6 separate regions of the Homo sapiens genome follow, and regions 2, 3, 4, 5 and 6 are each reported to be linked to region 1. Evidence: microRNA targets listed by miRTarBase, many of them from high-throughput screens and not tested one by one. Region 1 holds a microRNA gene; each other region holds the end of a gene's coding sequence.
What was found. Region 1 holds the annotated microRNA hsa-let-7a-5p (UGAGGUAGUAGGUUGUAUAGUU, at 2,638-2,659, shown strand). A microRNA usually pairs through its seed, bases 2 to 8, with sites in the 3' UTR of a target mRNA and lowers its output. Matches are read on the target gene's strand: a 7mer-m8 pairs with bases 2 to 8, a 7mer-A1 pairs with bases 2 to 7 and ends in A, and an 8mer does both.

Region 1 (4,288 bases):
GGAGGCTGAAGTCCTGGCCTGGGGGACCTGTGGGGGCCAGGCTGGGGCCATTGGAATCAGTATGGTGGTCCCCACCTGCACTCCAGCTCCGATGGCTGATGACGGGGGCCCTGGCAGCTGACCCCTTGCCTCAGTGGGGAGACCACGGCTCACGAGGGCATGAGACCTGCCCAGAGCATAGCCCAGAGGCCGGCCTGGATTCTCACAGCTCCGCCCACTGGGCTGTCCTGCCCCACCCCCTTTTTAGCCTGCTGGGACCATGAGTCAGAACCCAGTAGGTGTGAGGGGACCCAGCCAGCCCAGGTGGCCAGTCCAGCCTGAGGGGGTGGGGGTCTCAGAGATTAAGTCAGGAGCCCAGAGTGCGTGCTTAGGGTGCAACCCACCCCACAGCCTCCCCCAAGGCACCTCCCGGGGGTGCAGATGGGGGCAGACGCAGGGACACTCAGGGTGGACCACCTGACTGGGAGCTGATCATGAGGTGTGCGACAGCCTGAGTCAGCCTCAGCTCAGAGGAGCTGGGATGGCCTTGATCTTCCCCCTCCGGCCACTCACCACAGCTGGGAGGGTCCAAGGAGACCCTCAGCCACTGTCCCTTCAGCCCTCACCCCACCCTGGCTGGCTCTGCCCGGACAGTCCTTAGGGACATCTTGGTCCTGCCCACCAGCCAGGGGACCCAGAATTGGAGCAGGGGAGCAGGACCCCCAGACCCTCTCATACCGCTTTTGTTCTGAGGCCTTGAGGGAACACGGGGTCTTCGCGACCCCAGGCGAGATGATGCTGGGACAGAGGAGGGTCGGGCTGCATCGGGGCCCTCCTGGTCCCCACTCCTGGGTGAGTCAGCATCTCAGTCTCCAGTTCTGGGTGGGCGGCACCAGGTGTGAGCCTCAGCGGTCTCCTTGCTGGCTAAGGACCTGGGATTTGCTCCAGTGCCCCTCGGGAGGGAGTAGGACACGTGCCCAGAGAGCAAGCAGACCCCCTCCCCGACCAACTTCTGAGAGCAAAGACACCTAGAGCTAGAGATTCAGCACCCCCTGAGCCTCAGTTTCTCCACTATGAAGTGGGATCCGTGATCTCAGCCTTACCAGGGCTGTGAGGATTAAATGGTCCAGCCCAGCCTGGGGCCTGCCTGGAGTAGGCAGCCTGCTCAGGATGGGCTGTGGAAGGAGGGCTGGGGTAGACCTTTCAAGTCCACTTGGGCATGGGGAGCTGAGAGCTAGCATGCCGTTTAACTTGGCAGGAAGCAGGCCGGGCGCAGTGGCTCATGCCTGTAATCCCAGCACTTTGGGAGGCTGAGGCGGGCGGATCACGAGGTCAGGAGATCAACACCATCCTGGCTAACACGGTGAAACCCCCTGTCTACTAAAAATACAAAAAATCAGCCGGGCGTAGTGGCGGGCGCCTGTAGTCCCAGCTACTCGGGAGGCTGAGGCAGGAGAATGGCGTGAACCCAGGAGGCGGAGCTTGCAGTGAGCCGAGATCGCGCCACTGCACTCCAGCCTGGGGGACAGAGTGAGACTCCATCTCAAAAAAAAAAAAAAAAAAAAAAAAAAAAGCTTGGCAGGGAGCAGGACATTTGGACCTCACTCTGCTGCCCCCTTGGCTGTGTGACATCCAGGTCACGTTGCCTCTCTGGGCCTCGGTCTCCTCACCTGTTTAAGAGGGGTTGACAGTCGTATCTGCCCCCTCAGCTTTTCCCCAGGAAGGTGGTAGCCACAATTAGCATTTGTTGAGGCTGACCCTGCACCAGGCCCAGGATAGGCGGGGCTTAGGGAGGCCCGTCTCTCGCCACGTTCCCCTGCTAGGGGAGCCCCGAGGCCCTCTCAGTGTCATCCTCATGCTACACTCTGTCCCAGCCCTGTGCGTCCCAAGCTAGGGCACTGAGTGTGCCAGCACCCGCAGGGACAGGCACTGGACCCTGGGTGGACCTGAGGGTCTGTGACTACCCCCCCAGCTGCTCTCCCCTAGAGGCCACTTCCCTCAAGGAAGGAAAGAACCTTCCCGCCACCTCCTGCAGTGCGGTCAGCTCAGGCCAGCCTGCACAGCAGGGCCAGAACCAGGGCCCCTGGGGAGGGATGCCTGCCTGCCCAGTGGGAGGAGACGGCACGCCCGTGAAGCCGCTACTCAGCCAGCCTGGGGGCCACGAGTGCTGCTTCTGGTGGCGCTGTGCGGGGAGGGAGGGGGCCGAGCAGGGTGGGCACTCGCATGCCTGTGTCTTGCTGGCCTTCGACAGATGACAGCCCTCCTCCTAGGGTCTCCAGTGCAGAGTTCCTTGGGGACATTATGGCCACTCCTGTCCAGATGAGAGGGAGCCGGCTGCCTGTGACAGCGTCGCAAAATGCCGCCAGGGCTTTCCCTCCCTCCTCCTTTCTCTCTTCCTCGTCCCTCTCTGGTTGGTGGTTTCCTGCAGGCTCCCGTCCCTGCTGGTGCTGGCCACAATGTCCCCACTCCCAGGGTTTCGGCGTCCCAGCCCCCTGCGCCCACCGCGCCTGCCCGCCAGAATCCCTGTGCCCTTGGTGCGTGTGGCCTGCCGAGCCTCGAGCCCCTGTTCTCCTCAGCCCTCTTTCCTCCCGCGTCCCCAGGAGGTGCCTCTGGAAGCCACGGAGTCCCATCGGCACCAAGACCGACTGCCCTTTGGGGTGAGGTAGTAGGTTGTATAGTTTGGGGCTCTGCCCTGCTATGGGATAACTATACAATCTACTGTCTTTCCTGAAGTGGCTGTAATATCTGCGGTGGACAGAGCGTCTGGAACCCTGGCTGGGAGCGGGCAGGGCCAGGTTTGGGGGCAGCCTTGGCAGCAGTCGGGGGCAGGGGCCGCCTACACTGAGAAGTCTGACAGGCCTAGGTGCCACTTGCTGTGTGACCTTGGACAGGCCCCTGATCTCTCTGGGTCTCAGTTTCCTCCTCTGTAAAATGGAGGCAAATGAGGATGGAAGGAGATGCAGTGTGGAGCATCGAGGGCAGAGGAGAGCTGAGCCGACCCCACCCTCTGCCCCAGCCGCACTGAGAGAGGCGATCCACGCAGCTGTTTGTCTGACCTCTGTCTCCCAACACTCCCCAACACTCCCCCCGCCATCAGGCCCAGGCTCATGGGTGGCCCTGAGCCGTACCCTCCACTGAGCACCAGGAGAAGGCACCGTGGGGCCAGGGGTGGCCGAGACGTTTGGAGGTCACAGGGCTGCGAGTATTGGCGTTGCCCATCACCCCAGGTTCCCAGCACGTGCCCCAGCCTGGCCAGCTCAGTGGCAGGGCCTCTGCCTGTGGAGGAAGGGAGGCCAAGGCACCTTTCCTGAGCAGGAAGTGAGAGGAACAGCTCTGCATACACTGGGTCCCACATGGCACAATCTGAAGGCAGACAGTGGCTCCTCTGTACCTGGGGAAACTGAGGCCCAGAGAGCCAGGGACTTCCCAAGACCAGCCAGCAGCAGCTGCCCCTTCCTGGGGTGCCATCTCCCCTGTCCCTCCTGCCCTGCGCCTGCCCAGCCCTCCTGCTCTGGTGACTGAGGACCGCCAGGCAGGGGCTGGTGCTGGGCGGGGGGCGGCGGGCCCTCCCGCAGTGCAAGGCCGGGCCTGGCGGGGTGAGGTAGTAGGTTGTGTGGTTTCAGGGCAGTGATGTTGCCCCTCGGAAGATAACTATACAACCTACTGCCTTCCCTGAGGAGCCCAGTGACACGACCCCATGGGAGGGCCGCCCCCTACCTCAGTGACACGACCCCACGGGAGGGCTGCCCCCCACCTCAGTGACCTGCAGGGGGCCTGAGCCGAAGCTGGGTGGGCATCTGGGAGCTAGATTCAATAAAGCTGTTCTGACCATGAACTTGGAACTGGCCCCTTTCATTCTGGAAGCCCAGGGACTGGGCTCTGGGGCGCGTCTGCTGCGGGACAGTGTGGAGGCCCCTGGCCACGAGCTGTTCCAGGTCATGAGACTTGTCTGCTCACGCCTCCCGGTGCCTCCAGAGTCCTCAGTTGGCTCCGTGCTGTACCCTGGGCTCAGGATCCCAGGCCCAGCCCGTTCTCTGCCCTCTCGTGCTGCCTTTGAGCCAGGCGGGCTGAACACCGGGACCCAGGCCCGGTGGAGAGGTCCCCACGGGGCAGCCACCAAGGCCCCAGGTCAGCAGCTCAGAGCACTGCCAAGTCCTGGCTCCTGAGGCCACCTCCGTGCCTTAAGTGCCTTGACCAAAGTCTGGACGTGCCTGTCCTTCCGTCCTCCCTCAGGACAGTTTCCAGGGCACCCGTAATTCCTCTGACAGACTGCCATCCCAAAAGTGCACCCATTCTCCTGGGAGGCCTC
Region 2 (4,288 bases), not on the chromosome of region 1:
AGCATTTTGGGAGGCTGTGAGCCGATCACTTGAGGTTGGGAGTTCAATGCCAGCCTGGCCAACGTGGCGAAACCGTCTCTACTAAAAATACAAAAAAAATTAGCCAGGCGTGATGGCGTGTGCCTGTAAACTCAGCTACTGGGGAGGCTGAGGCAGGAGAATCACTTGAACCTGGGAGGCGGAGGTTGCAGTGAGCCGAGATTGCTCCACTGGACTACAGCCTGGGTGATAGAGTGAGACTCTGTGTCACACACACACACACCACAAAAAATAAATAAATAAATAAATAAATAATAAAGTTGAGAGGTCATAACAAATACAAAAACTCACTACAAAATTGTTTTCTTAGGCCTTTTCTCTCAGTTGTCTAATTGTATTTTCAGATGGAAGCAATACAAATTAAAATGCAGCTGAGCCATTTCAAGTAAAATGGATATAAAATTGTAGCACCAAAAAAGCTGAAGCCAAAAATATATTCATTTGCCATACAGGAATAGAAGTACTTTGTGATGTTATATGGGAAGCTATGCCGATATCCAGCATATAGATATTAAATCTGGAGTAGTCTCTAGTGTCACTACATTATTTTCTACGGCAATATGGCCTACTTCCATTACTCATGGGCTGAATATTTTATTTTATTTTATTTTATTTTTTTGAGACAGAGTCGTGCTCTGTTGCCCAGGCTGGAGTGCAGTGGTGCGATCTTGGCTCACTGCAACCTATACCTCCTGAATTCAAGTGATTCTCATGGCTCAGCCTCCAGAGGATCTGGGACTACAGGCATGTGCTGCCACGCCCGGCTAATTTTTGTATTTTTAGTAGATGGGGTTTCCCCATGTTGGCCAGGCTGGTCTCAAACTCCTGGCCTCAAGTGATCCACCCACCTTGGCCTCCCAAAGTGCTGGGATTACAGGTGTGAGCCACTGTGCCCAGTCTGAATATTTTATCTTATACTGTTTACCTCTTAAATCTATCCCTGCTCACTAGAATTGCCTGTCAACATTACATTGGGATAGAGAAAACTGGTGACACGTCAGCTAGTTTTGCTATTTATAGCTGCTTTGATTAAGTAGGTTTAAAGCTAACAATTAGTTTTGGACTACCCATGGAGCTGATTTTCTGCATAATTTCCCCAATATAAAGTTAATTAATATTAGATCAAAGATGACACAGGTTAAACAAGATTTTAAAAGAAAAATAAAATTTCAACTTTTTTCCCTCAAACGCCTGCAATATAACACACATCTTTGTCTAACGTATTAGTTGTCACAGGAGACATTTGGCTGACAATTTGTTAATATAAAAATTTTCCTGAGAAGTCTAGTTTACATGAACTGCCAATTCCTCTACCCCCAAACCCCTTTAAACATACAGATGAAGGATAATTTGTGTCAAAAAAATACTTCGAAGTCCATCTTTCGATTGGAGGTTCTTACACTTGTAATTCTGTTTTAGGGCAATGAAGTTCCCAAAAGTGGTCTCCAGATGCCCAACATGTCCAGTCCTCATATTCACTGGCATTGAGTATTTCCTTTCTACTAAGTTTAAAAGACCACTCAAGGCAGACCTTTCTACAACTGCATCATGGGGAGATCAGCAAATACTACTTTGTTCTTTTCAGGCTGAGAAAAACACCTGAGTTTTTGTAATTTTTTGAAAACTGTAAATATAAAAGTTCTCTTCAAGAGAAGCACCACCATCCTCATGACCTGCATTACACATCAAGGGACAGAACAAATATTAACTAAATGTTTACTTCAGGTTAAATGGTCCAATAAATCACATTTGTCTTTAACAATGCGGTAAATTTTGAAAAATCCAAAGGAAATAAAAGGGAAAACTATCATAAACTATGAAAAAAGAAGTCTAGGGAAATTGATAAAAACAGTCCAAGAAATGCAGCTGAGTATCACAATGTCACAAGGAGACTCTAGAGAAGAAGTTTTCCCTGATTTCCATTAATGCTTAAATGATCTGCTGATGTATAAATTATCTCCTGTCCCACAAACTGAAAACAAGTCACAAAATCCACATTAGAATATAAGTTTTTTAATTTTTATAAATAACTTATCTGTTACAAAGATAGTTTACCCAGCTAAATCACAAAACCATCAACTCAAGATATCCAAATTACGTTTTATTAATAAAACAAGTAAAAACTGATTTATCAATCTTCACATAGAACTGCAGATGAAGCTGAAAAACAAGGCCTATTTTAAAAATAAATTGCATCAAACGTAAGGGCTTTGGGTCTATGGTTTAATTACCTAGGATTGTCATATTTCTTCCCATATACAAAATGCAAAGCCTGAAAGTTAGGGCTCTGACATTCATAGAGATCAACTGTAATAATCCCATTTAAAACACAGCCACTTGCAAACATTTACAGTGGGTGGTAGTCTATATTATCTTCCATCCTTTGCTCTATTTCAGCACTTCCCTTAGCCCCATTCTAAGCACTCATATAATTTCATAATTCTGTCTTTTTAAATGCATACTGTTCTTTTTCTTGATTTCAGTTATATACATTCCTGATCATCTGAATATTTTCCTTACAAAAATATATCATCAAAATAAAGAGATGCTTGAGGTTGCTTCAGTGTTCAAGTTTGCTTGTTTTTTTTTCCAGCTTTTCTTCAGTTGTCCTAAATATGGCTAGCCTTGTTTTATAAATACACATGATACTGTCACCAAGTCAGGATTAGAAATGGACTGCCCCAACAGTAAAGCATTTAAACTTCTCTCCAAAAAAAGGGCTGTAGGTACTGCTGCTGTTGCTGGTTTTGAGACTGTACTTTCCCAATAACAACTGCTTGTGCAAGTTCTGTGGGACACCAAGCAGATGAAGCTTAACCTTGTTGTTCTGTCAGTGGGTTAAAAATATCTTTTGTTTTAAGCTTCCCTGTGGAAGACAAACACTGTGTTGTGTCACCCACTGCTCAAGTCAGTATTTAATGTGACCTACAGACATCACTTCTGTAATATCATCTGCAATTCACTGTGCAGCATCTGCCTGTCTTCACACAACATTGGAACTCATGAGGGCAAAGTACAGAATAAGTAGAGGAAAGTTATTCTGTGCATACTTTCATCTCATTAATGCTTTTTTATTTTAAGGCATTGTTCCTCTCAGGTAAGGCTTAAAAAGGGACATGATCGTGCTTAATTACTAAAAGGAAAAAAGAAAATTAGTTAACAAAAGGCTATTACACTATACATATAGAAATATAAGAAAATAATCAAGAAGAAAAGAAATCACTTAAAGCAGACTCGAGAGATCTGTACAGTAGGAAAAGCTTTGGGGTATTTCGCTGCACATTTGTACAGACAATGCATGCTGCTTTCCTTTGCATCTTTAGCCCCTAGATGCTGGCTTCACAGAGTGGAGACACGTTCAGGGAAGACAAAGACAAGGCCAAGAGTACCACAGATTTCTGAAGTTCTTCCCTATCCAATGGCACTATGCGGCAGCAAATGGTTCTTAAATAGTTAAACCTTGTTCCTTTTCTTCGTGTATGTAGTGTTTCACTGAAAGCTTTACAAATAAAACAAGCTATCATTCTATTCCTTCCTCCTGTCAAAATTCAGTAGTGACATGAGGGGAAAAAGGTATTGGGAACACCTAGGTGTTAACATATTGAGAATTATCCATAATGGGACACTGGTAACACTGTACACAGTTAGGCAGTGGGCAACCAAGTCTTTCAGCAGATTACTTTTCATGTGATGAATTTCAACTGCTCATGACATTATACTGAGGTATTATTAGCTCTGTGGGCTGACATTTAACATTAGCAGAACACCATCTTGTCACACCTTCAATTTGACAAAATCCTATGTAGCAGTGAAACTTTTTCCCGATGACAGACTAGTTTCTTGAACTTTAGATGTGGTTTTAGAGAAGATACAGGGCCATTTGGCTCAGAAATGCCTTGGCATCTCACACTGTTCACAGCGAATTAAGGCTGGATGGTTCAAAAAAGTACAGGCGGTACAATTCCACTGAGCTCCCTCATCATCTTCTGTGTCTTGAGTCTTTGGTGTTTTGATGATGGACCTTTGATCTGTAAGAAAGAAAAAAATTATTTTATAAGTAAAAAATCACAAAGTCTAAAAAATTACAGGCAACTTTAAACACCATTTGTAGTGCACAGCCTGATGCAGCTTGCTCCCCAAATGGGGCATCTAGCTGACACTGACACACATGCTCGATCACTACCAACCTCTATCTAGTTGGCACTTCTCCCTCTGGGAAATACAACATGAACATGATGTAATCACCTCC
Region 3 (4,288 bases), not on the chromosome of region 1:
GCCTTTAGACCTTATTCCCAGTGTATAGGAAATACAGGGCGAGAGAGAACCAAATAAAACAGTACCACAATTAGACAAGTCCAGAATTTGCTACAGTTGACAGACTGTCTGGTCTAATCTCATCCTAAAAAGTCAGTGTTGTGTAAAAACAAGAAGTTGGAAGGACCAGTCTAGATTAAAAGAGACATAGCCAAATGCAGTGCCGGAAAACTGTTGGATGGCTCATGTAGGTATTCCAGTGAAGGCTAGGATGCTAATAATGAAAAACCATTTGAAGAGTTTGAGTAAAATTGTTTCATCAAATGTGAGCAGAAGGCAGCAGTATAGATAGAATATATATTTCCTGAAATGTGATTTTAAATTAAATATATGAAACAAATTTATAGAATTTGATTATTTCATCAATATACCTGAAGGTTGGTATTTTTAAGTTGGCCAAAACTTTGCTTTTAATCTCATTGGGCAAAATGAGGAATTGCCTTATGATAACTGTCATCCTAAACCAGAGATTTTGTTTCAGATGAACTTTTATTATCTCAATAATAGTGTGTTTTCCTATCTGTTAGATAAAAATGGGTCTGTAACTAATTGGGGAGTATTTTTTAAAGTGTGGATGAGGAAACCCATGTTTTAAATGGGCACTAGCCTCATCCACTAATGTTGGCAGGAATGTTCATCAGCAGTGACAAAGCATTTTGAGATTTTTGTCTTTCATCATTGTAGACTATACTGTAAAAATCATAGTGGAAATGATGAGAGAGATGAAGAAGATGAGGAACGAGAGAGTAAAAGCCGAGGAAAAGTAGAAATTGATCAGCAACAACTAACTCAGCAGCAACTTAATGGAAACTAGGTATGAAAGTTAATTATATGGGATCTGTTGTCAGGATACAATACACACTGATATATACATGTTGAAGTAATGGTATGCAGTAAGATTTTTTTTAATCCTATTATGTTTAGTTAAGAGCATGTTACTAAAATGCTGAGGATTTTGTAGGCTTGCATAGTAGTTGTTTTTTAACTAGCTGATTTTGTAACCATAAAAACAAGCTATCTGCTTTATCAATAAGTGTAGTTGTAATGTCAAATCAATAAGATATTCACACTCCTCAATAACATTATATTGATTGTGTTCCCCTCAAGCATCATATTTTACATTTTTTTATCATCTTTTAAACAGGTTCATGGGACAGAGTTAGAAAACTGGGAATGAATAAGACATCCATAACTACTATTCTTTTTTCACTGTTTTCTAAAATCAAAAAGGGTTTGTAACTTTTTACTGCCCAACTCTTAGATCCTTCATTGAACTGCCTAAAAATGTCTTGTTTGTTTTATGAGCCCTCACTAGAAGGCTGAGTTTGACATGTTGATATTACGTAGCTATAGTTTGCAGTTTCTGGGAAGCAATTGAAACACTATTAACCCTGTGTATAGTGTCAACAGTTAAAGCAGACGAAACGAAGTAAGCTATATTTCTGGACTGAACAAAGCTCTGCTGTTTAGAGCATTTAAGTTTGTTTAGTGGATCCATACTCAAAGGAAAGCATAAGCAAATTTTCCTTTACAATGCAAACATGCCACTGGTGGCAGCACATGGTAATTTGTGGATTTTTTTTTCATACTCAAGTAATGGAGGCTAGAAATGAAGAGAACCTTCTTTTTCTCTTGACTTTGACAGCACATGCTAAAAATCTCTTCCAAGAAGTATGCTAAAGCTTTTCATTTGGTTCCTGTTAAAGTTGTTCTCACTGACCAGCATGGACTCAGGCAACTGGTAATGATAAGCTATGAGCTCCAGTGCTTTTGCCAAAATTCTCTTGACAGCACACCTCCTCTCTTTCCATGTTATACAAAGGACTTCTGGCAAAATGATTGAGTCCTTCAAGTTTAAACTAACATTTGGCAACAGCAAATTAAACGTTTTTAAGATGTAAAGAAAGGGTTACCGCTTGCTAAGGACTTCAGACACCATGTCCGAAACCTGTTCCTCTCAAGTGCCCTGTTGTGTGGAACACTTCACATATTGGCGCACAGTACGTAAGGAGGTCTCATGTGCTGTAGGAGTAAAAAAGTCTTTGCATAAAACAGTATTTATTTTTACTTTTGTGACCACTATTTTAGAAACTTTATTTAATATTTTAATGTTTTCAGTCATTGCTTTGGTTATCTATAAAATAGGCTTTTGTGCCCTACTTTTCTTCTTGTAGGGCTTGGTGGTGTTTTATCGATTGTCAGAATTGTTTTTGAAAGCCTAAGAACCCAGCTTTTTAGAAAGGATTTTCACACTGGCATTTCTAGGTAGTGATATTTTCTTCCACTTACCTGCTGAAGCACATTTATGCATTTCTTTATGGCAAAACCAAATAACTTTAGTTGTGGTCTGCCTGATACTACCATAGCACCTCAGTACCAAGGGGAGGGATTTTGACTAGTTGAATTATTAAGCCACCACAATAAAGCAGATTTTTAAATAAGAAATAATAATGTTAACTTGACTGTACATTGAGATATTCTGCAGCTGATAGAGCAGCATTTTAAAAATGTAACAGGTGGAAAATTACACTGTGCTTAATGACTGATTTTTTTTTAAACTGCGAGTCCCTTAAGATCACGTTTGTCAAGTGTGTATTCACACATTTACTTAAATCAAGGGACTCAATGCTTGCTTTTATTTTAACCATCTTTTACTATTTTTAGAAGGAAACTAGCTTTAGTAGTGGGTTGCCCTGTATGTTTTCTCTTTTTGCTCTTAATATGCCATTGGGTTTTTGTGTGTATGTGATTTTCAAAATTCATGACTTGAAGTGCAAGGACAGATCTAGATGTTTGTTTACCAAGCTATGTGACTTCTCCCAAAGGATCTGTACTTTCTTTCCTTACAACAGCTTGAAAATCATTATTTTAAAATCCTTAAATCACTGTGTCTAGATCATTTTTTACATTGTGTGCCATAGACTTACCCATGGGACAACAGAGCTCCTTCATTTTTGGACAACTACTGTAATCATTTTTTTTTTAGGAAAAATGGAAGGTGCCGGGGGTAATCATGGCCAGTCAATAATTATATAAAGGAGTTCAAATACTATAGCTGTCAGTTGATGAATTTGTTATGTAGTAAAATGTATGACTTTGTATGGGTTTCTTCAGCCCTTTTTCTGCCACTAGCAACCAGAATAGCACTTTACCTTTTGGTTGGCTAGATAAGTGGCTGACTACCTGTTTTTCTCACTGTGGTGTGATTGGCTAAACAATCTCGCATTAAAAATTCAAATGTAAATTGAATTCACATGAAAAATCATGTTTGGTTGTAAACCTCCAATGTTTTGATTCTCTAATCATGTTTTCGTCACATGCTGAGTAAAAGTGCCTTACAATGTAAAAATTGTACAGTACTTATGTTCCCAAGTAGCATCATCATCTTCTGGGTAGTAATTACATTGTGGTATTAATATTTAGAAAAATGGACCTCAGCAGTGTATTTACTGTACATCTCTTAAGTCCTTAACTGTAGTTTTAATAAGCATGACATTATTTGATAAGTATATAACATTTACATCATTTCAAAAAATACTGCCGTTACTGTCTTTTATGCATATTTTAGCCTGAAATTTTGAAGCGTCTTTTTTCTTTCTTTTTTCTTTTTTTGTTTTGTTTTTTGTTATTGATATTAAACAGTGTAATCTTTGCAAGCGTATATTGAAGATTATTCTGGAGCATTTATTGCCTTACCAGAAATGTTAGTAGGAAATGTTCTTTAGAGTAGAAAGATAGACTTGAGTTTCTATACTTTTAAGAAGAGCTCTTTGTTCCTGGGGGAGGGGGGCAGGGGGTGAATTTTACTTTCATCTCAAGTTATTAAAAACCCACAACTGAAGTAAATTTTATTTCAAGAATCAGCAGTTTTAGAATTTCAGATAGTACTTGCTCAGAAGTACATGCTACTCAAGATATTAAGAGATAACAAGATCTGTAGATCTGCTATTGAATCAGAATCTGTGTACTTGAACAAATGTGTGAATCTCAAATATCTCAAAGCAAAAGAAAAAGTGTTCTAGAGTGTTGTTGCTTTTTTAAAAAAAGCGCTGAAGTTAGACCAAGGTATACAGTTTTGTTCTAACAGACATTTAGGTTAATTGTAAAGATAAGGAATGCATTATGGGTCAAAAATCAAACATTCCTCTCATGTTATGTATATTTTGTTCCTGTTATATTGGCTTTATTTTCAAAATTGTAGTTTGTAGTATTAGTTTCCTTTTATTGGTATTCTTGCATATACTATTCA
Region 4 (3,000 bases), not on the chromosome of region 1:
AAGCCCACATATTAGCAGAGACCATAAGGAGAAGCACAAGGAGCATCCTTCAAGCCGCCACCACACCAGCAGCCACAAGCATTCCCACTCGCATAGTGGCAGCAGCAGCGGTGGCAGTAAACACAGTGCCGACGGAATACCACCCACTGTTCTGAGGAGTCCTGTTGGCCTGAGCAGTGATGGCATTTCCTCTAGCTCCAGCTCTTCAAGGAAGAGGCTGCATGTCAATGATGCATCTCACAACCACCACTCCAAAATGAGCAAAAGTTCCAAAAGTTCAGGTAGTTCATCTAGTTCTTCCTCCTCTGTTAAGCAGTATATATCCTCTCACAACTCTGTTTTTAACCATCCCTTACCCCCTCCTCCCCCTGTCACATACCAGGTGGGCTACGGACATCTCAGCACCCTCGTGAAACTGGACAAGAAGCCAGTGGAGACCAACGGTCCTGATGCCAATCACGAGTACAGTACAAGCAGCCAGCATATGGACTACAAAGACACATTCGACATGCTGGACTCACTGTTAAGTGCCCAAGGAATGAACATGTAATAATTTGTTTAGGTCAATTTTTCCTTTACTTTTTTAATTTAAAAATTGTTAGAATGGAAAAATTCCTTCTGATCTAGCAGTGGTAACCCCTGCTGTTGCTGCCACTGCTTCAATATTTGTAAGTGCTGCTTTATTCTTCATTCTGAAAAGAAGAGATTATAGTAAACAAGTCTTTATCTCCACATATGATAGTGTTATAAATACTGTAAAAGCATGGAAGGTGCAAAACTCAGTATTTCTACAATTGCAGCTAAGAACATTAGGATGAATGGCTGGCTGCTTCTAGGAATATAAGATGCCTCAAGCATTCATTATTTATGATTTGAATACTGTAGCTATTTTTTGTTGCTTGGCTTTTGAATGAGTGTAAATTGTTTTCTTTTGTGTATTTATACTTGTATGTATGATTTGCATGTTTCAATGATAAAGGGATAAAACAGTATACTGACAACTGTTTACAAGAAAGTGGAGAAAAATGTACATACATTTTTGTATGTTTAGATATTACCGTAAATACTCAGGATTGGAGCTGCTTGTAAGTATAACAATATACAGAATAACTTTATTTTATCTTGTCAGAGTCCATCACTAATCTAAAACAAAGGTGGCACTTTTTTATGTTAACCTTAAACTCTAGGCCTTACTGGAAGCCACTGATAGGGGACACTTCACTACCAGATGTGTGCAGTGCAACAGATGGTCATATACACTGTGAGGCACTGAAATTTTGCCTTCAGAGGTTCTGACCAGATTGGCTGCTGAAATAGCCCCTAACTTTCTGAAGGCTTGAAGAGGAAAAAATAAAGTTTACATACTCTTGATGTGAAGTGCATTTAAATGTTTGTTGGCTTGTTGCAGTTCTATGAAACAGAGCTGTTAATAATGGTTATGTGGATTACTGTGATTTGAAAACTAAATTCACAATAACTTACCTAGTAGAGATTTAGTGAGTTGTTTCCTTTAAAGAATTTTACACTACATATTTTAATAGTAAACAGGGATCACTTTTCCTTTAGCATTCAGAATGACACCATATTCTTAAATATACTCCTTCCCTGAAGCGTGTTTGTGTGTGATGCCATATTTCTTTTTCAGGTAAATGTAGTCTTCCTTATAAAAATGAAATTAAACCTATGCTCTCAATTCTTTTATATTCTAACAATAAATAAAAAAGAAAAGATTACTGACTGTGCATTGTACCTGTATTTATAGTTTATGGTTATCAGGAAGCTCTGTAAGAAAGAAAAGGTCAGCCTCCCAGGCAAACCAGTAGTGGAGGTTTTACATTTGTTTGCACATCTCAGTATATTTCTGTTGAGGTAAAGTTTGCACAGTCATCTGACTTCTGATCAAGCATTAGATTTTAACTTGTTTAGATTTTGTCTTAAACACCAGTAATATGGCTCTTGTTTATCAGCTAATCTTGAATTTATTCTGTGGTAAATCTTTTGAGTTGTTGAGTATATTTGAGATTGATTGGATTCGACCTCTTGTTGAACTGAAAACTTAATTTTTTCTCTGTATTTTTGTTACAAAGCCACTGATACGTGCACAATTGTAATTAAGTATGTTGCAGTTGTAAATATTAGAGTTTAATCTCATGCTCTACCTTTATTTAGCAATTACCTAATTTGCCAGTAGCTTTATAATTTTTAAAGATAATTGTTCATTATTTTGTCAATGTTATTTGAACTTGGGGTACTTAGGAGCCTCTTTGTAGGGACTGTGCCTAGGTAGCATGTCCTAACATTTGTTCTGGTCTTGCATAACTTCAGTAATCTTTGTCATTATATGTAACTTTGTTGCTCTGTATGGCATAATATTGTATCCATAAACATGGTAATTTTGATACAGTTATACTTTTACAGTGGTACATAATCCAAGGACTAGTATAGAATTAAGCTGAGTGCAAGATGAGGGAGGGAAGGGCTTTCTTGGTAATTTAGATGTGAAACCTCTACAGAGCTATCATGTAAAAACTACATAAGGTGGTTGTGCTACTGTATAATTGGGGGTGATAATACCAGGAATTTTAATAAGATTTTGTAAAGAATATCCAGAAAAGTAGTGAACTTATTTTCAGTAGACATAGAAAACAATGTGAATATTTAAGGTCTGTGACTATAGTTAAACTTCACTAAGAATTTGCAGAATTGTTTTGAGATGTGTGAATAAAGGTAATTTTATTGAATCTTCATTGGTGCTAATGATGGACAGTTAAAAAGATAGCTAGTGTATATTGTTATGGGTCAGTACTTATTAGTACTTCCAAAATTGAATTTGAAATGCTATGTATTCACTTTTCACTCTGTAAATGTAATTCTTTACAATGACTTTATTTATTAAAGGGCAGCCAGTTGTCATTTTTACAGGATTGTGTGAGCTATTCAAACTCTTCAACCCCTGAACAGGGTATTAAGCTTCCAAAATAATGATGGGGATAAATATGG
Region 5 (4,288 bases), not on the chromosome of region 1:
GGCAGATGCTGGTAGAAGTCTGTCGGGGGGAGCAGCAACATATGCAAGCATGGACTTGTATCTGTATTCTGAATATCTGAACCTGGGGATACCCAGAAATACACAGAAGGAATGGAGAAATGCCCCCTTTAAGGTCTCAATGCAGGTAGGGAGTATAAAGTCAGTATCATGGGTGTTAATGTAAATACTTGTTTACAGCCTCAGATAGTTGTTCTTAAGGATGTCTAAAAACAGACTAAAAACCAAAAAAAAATTACTGAAATGGTAAAAAATGTAATGGTTGTGGTTTTCCCTCTTATGTTCATACTTTCATAATATGTACATAACAGACAGAAGTGTTTCTCATTTGAATAATTGCTACTTTCTTTTATCGGATGCTAAGAAGTTTGAAATCCATTGTTTTTGGGTTTTTTTCCAGAAACAGTTCTAGCCTTCTCTATGTTGTCTATCCCTGTTGACACATCAGTCTTTACCATGTAATTTTGTTTTTAAAGGCATACCTCCCTCTATTATATACATGGTCTTATGTGTATGAATTCTTTTTTCAACTAGACCAGTAATCCTCAACATGAGGTCGAAAAAGAAAGACGAGAGTAGAGGATGAAAGGACGGCCTGGCATACTAGGCCATCTAAAGTGCATCCAGCAGCTCACCTGCACCCCCACAAACCATAAGCATCACTGCCATTCTGAGCTGATGTTGATGGGAGATGTTATAACTTTGAGGGGAGTGAGGAGGTAGAAAGAGTTAATAACTCTGAATTACTGTAAGTTTGGTGAGAAACTGTATTTTCACTAAAAGGTGAATTTTAGAACCAGAAGTTTATCAGTTTCAATTTTGGATCTATTACTTACTCTAAGTTCCTTAATCTTTGTCAGATGGATATGAACATACATTTCTTTCAATGTATGAATATTAAACATATGCTAAGTGCTAACAGATAGTGCTCAATAAATGCTCTTTAGACCTTACTTTTCAGGTAGACTTGGGAGTTCCTTTACATTACAGGTTTCTCAGTCTTGGCACAACTGACATGTTAGACTGGATAATTCTTTACTGTGGAGTGTTGTAGTCTAAAGCGTGCCCCTTAACCCCTACCACTAAATATGTTGGAAGTCTTAACTGCCGGTATCTCAGAATGTGACAGTATTTAGAGATAGGGCCCTCTATCTAAAAAAGAGGTAACTGAAGTAAAATGAGGCCATACGCATGGGCCCTGATCCAATGACTGCTGTCCCTACAAGAAATCGGGACACCAGTCCTGCACAGTCATGTGCACACAGAGAAAAGACCATGCAAGGACACCATGAGTGGAAGCCAAGGAGAGAGGCCGAAGAAGAAACCCTACTGATCTTGGACTTCCAGCCTCCAGAATTCTGAGAATACACATTTCTGTTGTGTAAGCTTCCCCGTCTGCAGTATCTTGTGACGGCAGCCCTGGCAAACTAATCCATGAGGGTTGGGTGTTTAGCCTCATCCCTGGCCTCCACCCATTGATACTGGTAGTACCCCTCACCACCCTCCACCTCCAAAAGTGTCTCCACACATTGCCAGCTGTCTCCTGGGGGGCAAAATCTTTCTGCCCACCCCACTGGGAACCATTGTTCTAGATGATCTTTGGCCACCTTTGTATTCCCAGTGTCAGCACAGTGACAGACATAGATAACCAAATATTTGCTGAATGAACTCATGTGCCTACTTTCCCAATCTTGGGTCTCACCGCTCCCTCACAAACTCCTTTTGCTGCAATTAAAGTAATAATTACTTCCAGTTTAATTTATAGACTATATAATTTGTCATGAAACAAACAGTTTTCATTTTGACATAATTTCTGACAACTCAGTGACATAAATATATCCATGTGAGCTCCTATTTTGTTTGACATGCTCACTTACCTCACATCAGTTCTGCCGATAGATTTGGTAAGTGGTGCTTTTAGTTTCCTTAATGCACCCCTCAGGATTTCATGCAAATGAAATTATTATGACAAATTTTTCTATAGCCATTTCTAACACAGGGAACTCATAAAGAAATCAAATGTCTGCACTTCACTGTGAAAACACTAAACTCTCAGCCATAATGAGACTCCACACATTATCAGAAACCCCAAGGCATACCAAAAAGACAAGGTCAACGGAGACAGTCTTTGGAAGGGGAGGTCATAAATGTTGAATCTGGCAAATCATAAATTTCTTGTCTTAACATTGCCGCATTTACTATCATCTCATTTGAAAGCTGATGTGTTTGGGTTGGGTGATGGCAGAGGGGTGGGAGTTGGGGGATGCTGGCTCTGAAATGCCAGAGAGGCATTAAGAACTCTGGAAGCATCTGGCTACTGGTAGACATTTTACACAGATAGCAATTTCTGACCAATCCATTTCAATGATTTCTAACCCATACTCAACTATCCAGAGGATACTGTTTTAAGAACATTATTGTAAACTGATACTCTCTATTCATTTACAAAATTCATTCATTGCATACTTTTTGTTTAATAGCTTGGATTCAGTGTTACAGATTTGATTGACCCAAGTGAAAAAATACTGACACTAATCATTTTTAAGTGCTATTTCAGAAGAATATGCGCAATGTTTCTAAGTTATTGTGACTTTGTGACTGTCGTAGCTTTAAATTATAATACTAATATCCTACTCTGAGAAATGTGTAAGACACAGGTCTAACAAACAACTACATTAACCTCGGGCAACAACCATCATGGAGCTGCTGTAACACAGGCATGGTGGTGGCGTGCATCGGTACTTACACACACCAAGGATGTGAACTGACATCCCGCCTTTCCAAAAACAAACATTTAACTCAACTGTTTCTTGCAATAAAGAAGTTGAAAGAATCCTTTTGTGAGGCTGGATTCTCCATGGAAGAGAAGGAGAATGGCCTAAGGACATTCTGAAATTTAATTATCAAACCAAACCAAACCAAACCAAATCCCTGTGCCAAAGTGCCAAAGAGTCTACCTCCTCTGCAAAGCTGGTACCTGTGTGAAATGTCAGTATTTTTAGAGAGAGATGTTTTAGAGGCAGGAGGCAACTGACCAAGTAAGGATATTTTGTAACATTTTTCCCCTCTGGAAAAGCAGAAAAGAATGAATATCAGCTAACCGTAATATTTAGAATTTAGCATCTTTCCTTGGGCATTTATAAATAGAAAATCTATCTGTGGCAACCAAAAGTACGGTATTCTAATCAATGCATTTGAAAAGTCAGCAAAAGCCCACATTAATTCCTATTACGCTTGTTTCTTGGTTCAATCTCAGCACTTTCAGCGGCTCTTGTGCGGCGATTCTGTCTTGGACTTATTTCTGTGTCTTGAAGATCGTTTCTGAAGACAGAAAAAGGAAATGACATCTTGGAAAGTAATGATTATTGTACAGCAGTTTCTAGTTTACAAGTGTTTTCACACATATTATTTCATTAAAACCTCGAAATAATCCTCTATTCTGTTGATGAATTCATAATTGTTATTATTAGTATTTCCACTTTATGAATTAGTGAGTTAGCAAAGATCACAGATAGTAAATGAGCTCTGAACCCCTTTTTCTGAATTAAAATTTAGGAGTTTTATGCTTCTGTTTAGCATGTAGAGGGCTGGGAAAAAACGGCAAACAAAAAGCTGCTCCCATCCTAACAAGAAAAAGCCAGACAGTCTAACAAAATCTTAACTCTGTTTGATCCTTCAGAGACCTGAGGTTTTAAAGGAACTAAGAAAGTAAAATTCCAAAGAAAAATATGCCCCTCCAAAGATGGGCCACACTTCTCTCACTTTTGGCAGAGTGTTGGAGAACGAGGTGGCTGCCATACAAACAGGTAAGAAGAATCAGCTAAGATTTTCCTAATTTCTTAAATACAGGCTAGTATTGCAGGCCCCTGACACAAGGAGAGTCTGCACACACTTGCCAGCTCTTTTCCACGAGCCTCCGTCAGGTGCTCACAAGAAAGACTGGGAGCAGGACAGGTGAATGGAGAGGGGCCACTTCAGTGGCTACGGGGGACAGGAAGAAGTCAAGTCCTGCCTGCTCTCCTGAATGCTTCTCTCCCATGAAGCATAAGCTTTTCAGTTGCTGAGGGAAACACAGGAAACTCCCCCTGGGGCTCTAGCAAAGACCTATGGCCTCTGGGGAAGGAACAGAGGTGAAATCAGTCTGCCTCAAGGGGAGGCATATGACCTCATTTGCAGGAACGCAGGCAAAGATTCACTGCTGCAGGGGGAATGGTAGAAACTAAAACCTCTACCTTACAGGAGGGGCAGTAAATCATCTCCAGCTGATGAC
Region 6 (3,000 bases), not on the chromosome of region 1:
ATTTTAGCAGTTTTAAGAATAACCGTTTAATTTTTTCTCTCAGAATTTTGTACACTGGTTCATCTTAAAACATTTTTCCAAAGAGGTACTCAAATATGTCATTTACCTATAAGCCATCATGCCATCACTTAGTTAAGACTGTTTTTACTGTTTCAAGAATTTGATTTATCCTTCCTTTTGTCTTACTGTAGGAAAAGAATGCCTCAGCCAGATGAGGAATACTGTCTTGTGTAAATATATTCAAGGAAAACACCTCCACTACCTCACTGACTTCATAATTGGAATGTCACATGGTTTTTTTAATCAAGATGCAGTGAACTGAGATTCTGAAACTCCACTGTAGTTTACTTTGCCTGTACCATTAATGCCAATGTTTTTATAAATCACTTGTACATAGTACATATGGGAATAGTTGCATATGGGAATTTAAACCAACATGTGGCTGAGCCTTTTTTTTTTTAATCTTCGTAACATGTTTAAAAAAAAACAGTGATTTTAACTGCATATTTGAACCTACAAACTGGTAAATCTTATTAACAAAAAGAATGTACTTAAGGCCCTCTTTATTTATAGTGTCGAGTTATTTTTGAATTTTGCTTAAAATCTATTTTTCATATGAAAATAAAAGATAACAATCAACTTGGGTCTGTCCTCTGACTTTACACTTCACAGGTCATTCTATGGAAAAGCCGTCAAATTTTTACCTTATTCCAAGTAAGTAATCTTTCAGGTGGTTTTCTTTTACCTGGAGGCTGAAGTACATTATACTTATCAATGAAGATTTCATCATTTGGAAATACATCAATTATAAAACTATTATGCTTCAGATGCCTTTCCTTAGCCAACATATTCTTTGGTGGAAAATCAGGAAAACTTTGTACCTTGGAGAATGTGACCCAGTGATAAATTCAAATTGTGTTGCCTTTCAGATTTTGAACTACCATAATTAACAGCTCAACTCCATGATGTATACATTTCTTTAAAAACTAGAATAGCAACTGCTCTCACAGTCTGGCATAATTATTCCCAAGGGGGAAATATGTAATAAGAAGTTTTAAAATATTCTCGGGAACTCTTTTCTAGATCACTACTAGACAGCTTTTGAGTCACAACAGGTATGTTACCCTGTTACTAATAATACAGAGCAGCACAGTGCAGTCATCCCTCACCACCAAGGTTTTTATTCCAAAACAGTTATTTGGCTAGACGTGAACCGTTAAGATACGGGATCAATGGAGTTACAATAAAGACAATGAAAGTGACAATTTATTAATACACAGTAAGTTCTAGAAGGCATCTTTCAAAACAAAACTTGATTTCTTTTGTATTTACATTTTTTGTTTCAAGTCTTAGCAAAATGCTAAAAGGCCTGGCCTAGTCACAATTACTGACATCCTTCTGGGACACAATTTTCTGGGCCTGTGTTGAATGAGGATAAATTATCTTTTCTCTAAAATGCCACATGAACCCTCTCTATATTCCCACATGAAGAGGAATGGAAGGTAATTATTTGGTCTTTTCTTCTGTTTAGGGGAATGAACTGAACCACTCATTTTTTTAAAATCACACTTAAAAGACACATGGGCAAAAAAGTTCCCCAAAACTACTGTCTTACCGAATTTGAGAAGGGAGGTAATGTATGAAGCTTAACAGCTGGCTTCAAAAGACACCTTTCCAAAGAAATTGTACTACCTCTATTAACGTGTAAACCACCAACCAAAAAAAAATAATAAGTTACTCCATCAAACACGTTATTATCCATAAAAAAGACTTCAACATTGTACTGGAAGATCTATTTAAGCATAAATAGTACTAAGCACCAATTACTAATCTGAAGGCCTCCTCACAGGTCCAAGGGCAATGAGCAACCTCAAGAGGCAGGTGACTGCACAAGCAGTAAGCTATGGATTAAAAATTAAAAGGATTTCACATTCTTTCCAAAGTGTACTGCCCGGTGTCTGGCACACGCATGTTACAATATGACAATCTGCTCTATTTGTGAGCACCTGAGTGTATTACAGGGGATTACACATGCATATGATAGAATCTGGCTCCCGGTACAGTCAAAGGAGAACAGCATCAGCCACCAAATGTGCTGATCTTACACTGAAAAGGGTTGACTGAAAACATTTCAAGGGTAATGTAAACACAAGAATAAAGCTGTGGGTCTATTACTTAGTGATGTGGTTTTATATGCTACATACGTAGACCTCTCTTTATACAATGAATATGGACAGTGCTGCAATAAAAACTGATGACACGTCAAATTGTTCACCTGAAGAAAAACCCTATTATAGTTCAGAAAATAATGCAACCAATTTTAATTTAATCTAGATACAGGTACTTTATTTACAAATATTTAGATTAATAGCATTTTGTTACATCAAATGAAGAGTACAGCAGTCTGAATAAATCCTTCAGTCACAAAAACAATAAAACCCACTGTAACTAACTTTGGGAGTCAGGGTATTGCACCTCAACAAGCCGCAGTCTTTAGTTTGTGATTGCTACCTTATATCCCAATGGGTGGTTTGTTTGTTTTGTTTTTGTAAATATACACACACACCAGCAGGTCATGGTCCCTGGGTGAGTCCCTTGTGATGCAACAGTGTAAGCAAAATGGATCACTGTAAGTCTTTAACAGAATATACCAATCTACTCCAGAAATCTTATTTTTTAAAAAGTTAAACAAAGACAAAAATAAAAATGAATCCACAAATTAACCAAAGCCTACTTTCTGCACATTCCAGTTTTGGCTTTTATTTAACATTGACTATACAATACTCTGGTACTACCACATGTTTACAACCCAGAAAGATGTACTTTTATGTTAGTGTCTGTAAAGAGGGATTTAAAATGTGTATTTTAAACACAGCAGTTGAGCTGAGTGCATTTTCTATAGTACGCTGAGGTGTTACCTATTCTATTTCAAATAAATTCTCAATTCCCAGCCACTGAATCATAAATGCAATAAAAAAAATCAACAGAAATGAAGAACTT

Region 2: the mRNA of TAB2 is a reported target of hsa-let-7a-5p. Seed matches in the 3' UTR shown: 7mer-A1 at 3,759-3,765.
Region 3: the mRNA of PHF6 is a reported target of hsa-let-7a-5p. The part of its 3' UTR that is shown has no 7-base or 8-base seed match.
Region 4: miRTarBase lists CCNT2 as a target of hsa-let-7a-5p. The part of its 3' UTR that is shown has no 7-base or 8-base seed match.
Region 5: miRTarBase lists RAD18 as a target of hsa-let-7a-5p. Seed matches in the 3' UTR shown: 7mer-m8 at 735-741.
Region 6: miRTarBase lists CNTRL as a target of hsa-let-7a-5p. Seed matches in the 3' UTR shown: 8mer at 259-266.

What each region holds. Positions count from the first base shown.
Region 1 is chr22:46,110,115-46,114,402 of GRCh38, forward strand. MIRLET7A3 (microRNA let-7a-3) reads left to right here and starts at 2,635; the gene lies at 2,635-2,708. It overlaps LOC124905135 (collagen alpha-1(III) chain-like), which reads left to right. Exons shown (of 2, transcript XM_047441696.1): 2 at 1-3,814. MIRLET7BHG (MIRLET7B host gene) reads left to right here. Exons shown (of 5, transcript NR_110479.1): 5 at 1-3,814. It overlaps MIR4763 (microRNA 4763), which reads left to right and starts at 3,452; the gene lies at 3,452-3,543. It also overlaps MIRLET7B. RefSeq lists an enhancer at 663-1,196.
Region 2 is chr6:149,409,356-149,413,643 of GRCh38, reverse strand. It overlaps TAB2 (TGF-beta activated kinase 1 (MAP3K7) binding protein 2), which reads right to left. Exons shown (of 7, transcript NM_001292034.3): 7 at 2,037-4,067. The coding sequence ends at 3,925. Among named protein-coding and RNA genes, the nearest start is that of SUMO4, 11 kb to the right of the region's middle.
Region 3 is chrX:134,424,478-134,428,765 of GRCh38, forward strand. It overlaps PHF6 (PHD finger protein 6), which reads left to right. Exons shown (of 11, transcript NM_001015877.2): 10 at 724-853; 11 at 1,184-4,288. The coding sequence ends at 853. Among named protein-coding and RNA genes, the nearest start is that of HPRT1, 34 kb to the right of the region's middle.
Region 4 is chr2:134,954,099-134,957,098 of GRCh38, forward strand. CCNT2 (cyclin T2) reads left to right here. Exons shown (of 9, transcript NM_058241.3): 9 at 1-3,000. The coding sequence ends at 550. Among named protein-coding and RNA genes, the nearest start is that of CCNT2, 37 kb to the left of the region's middle.
Region 5 is chr3:8,878,121-8,882,408 of GRCh38, forward strand. RAD18 (RAD18 E3 ubiquitin protein ligase) reads right to left here. Exons shown (of 13, transcript NM_020165.4): 13 at 1-3,339. The coding sequence ends at 3,237. Among named protein-coding and RNA genes, the nearest start is that of RAD18, 83 kb to the right of the region's middle.
Region 6 is chr9:121,176,972-121,179,971 of GRCh38, forward strand. It overlaps CNTRL (centriolin), which reads left to right. Exons shown (of 44, transcript NM_007018.6): 44 at 192-639. The coding sequence ends at 215. It overlaps RAB14 (RAB14, member RAS oncogene family), which reads right to left. Exons shown (of 8, transcript NM_016322.4): 8 at 1,162-3,000. Among named protein-coding and RNA genes, the nearest start is that of RAB14, 23 kb to the right of the region's middle.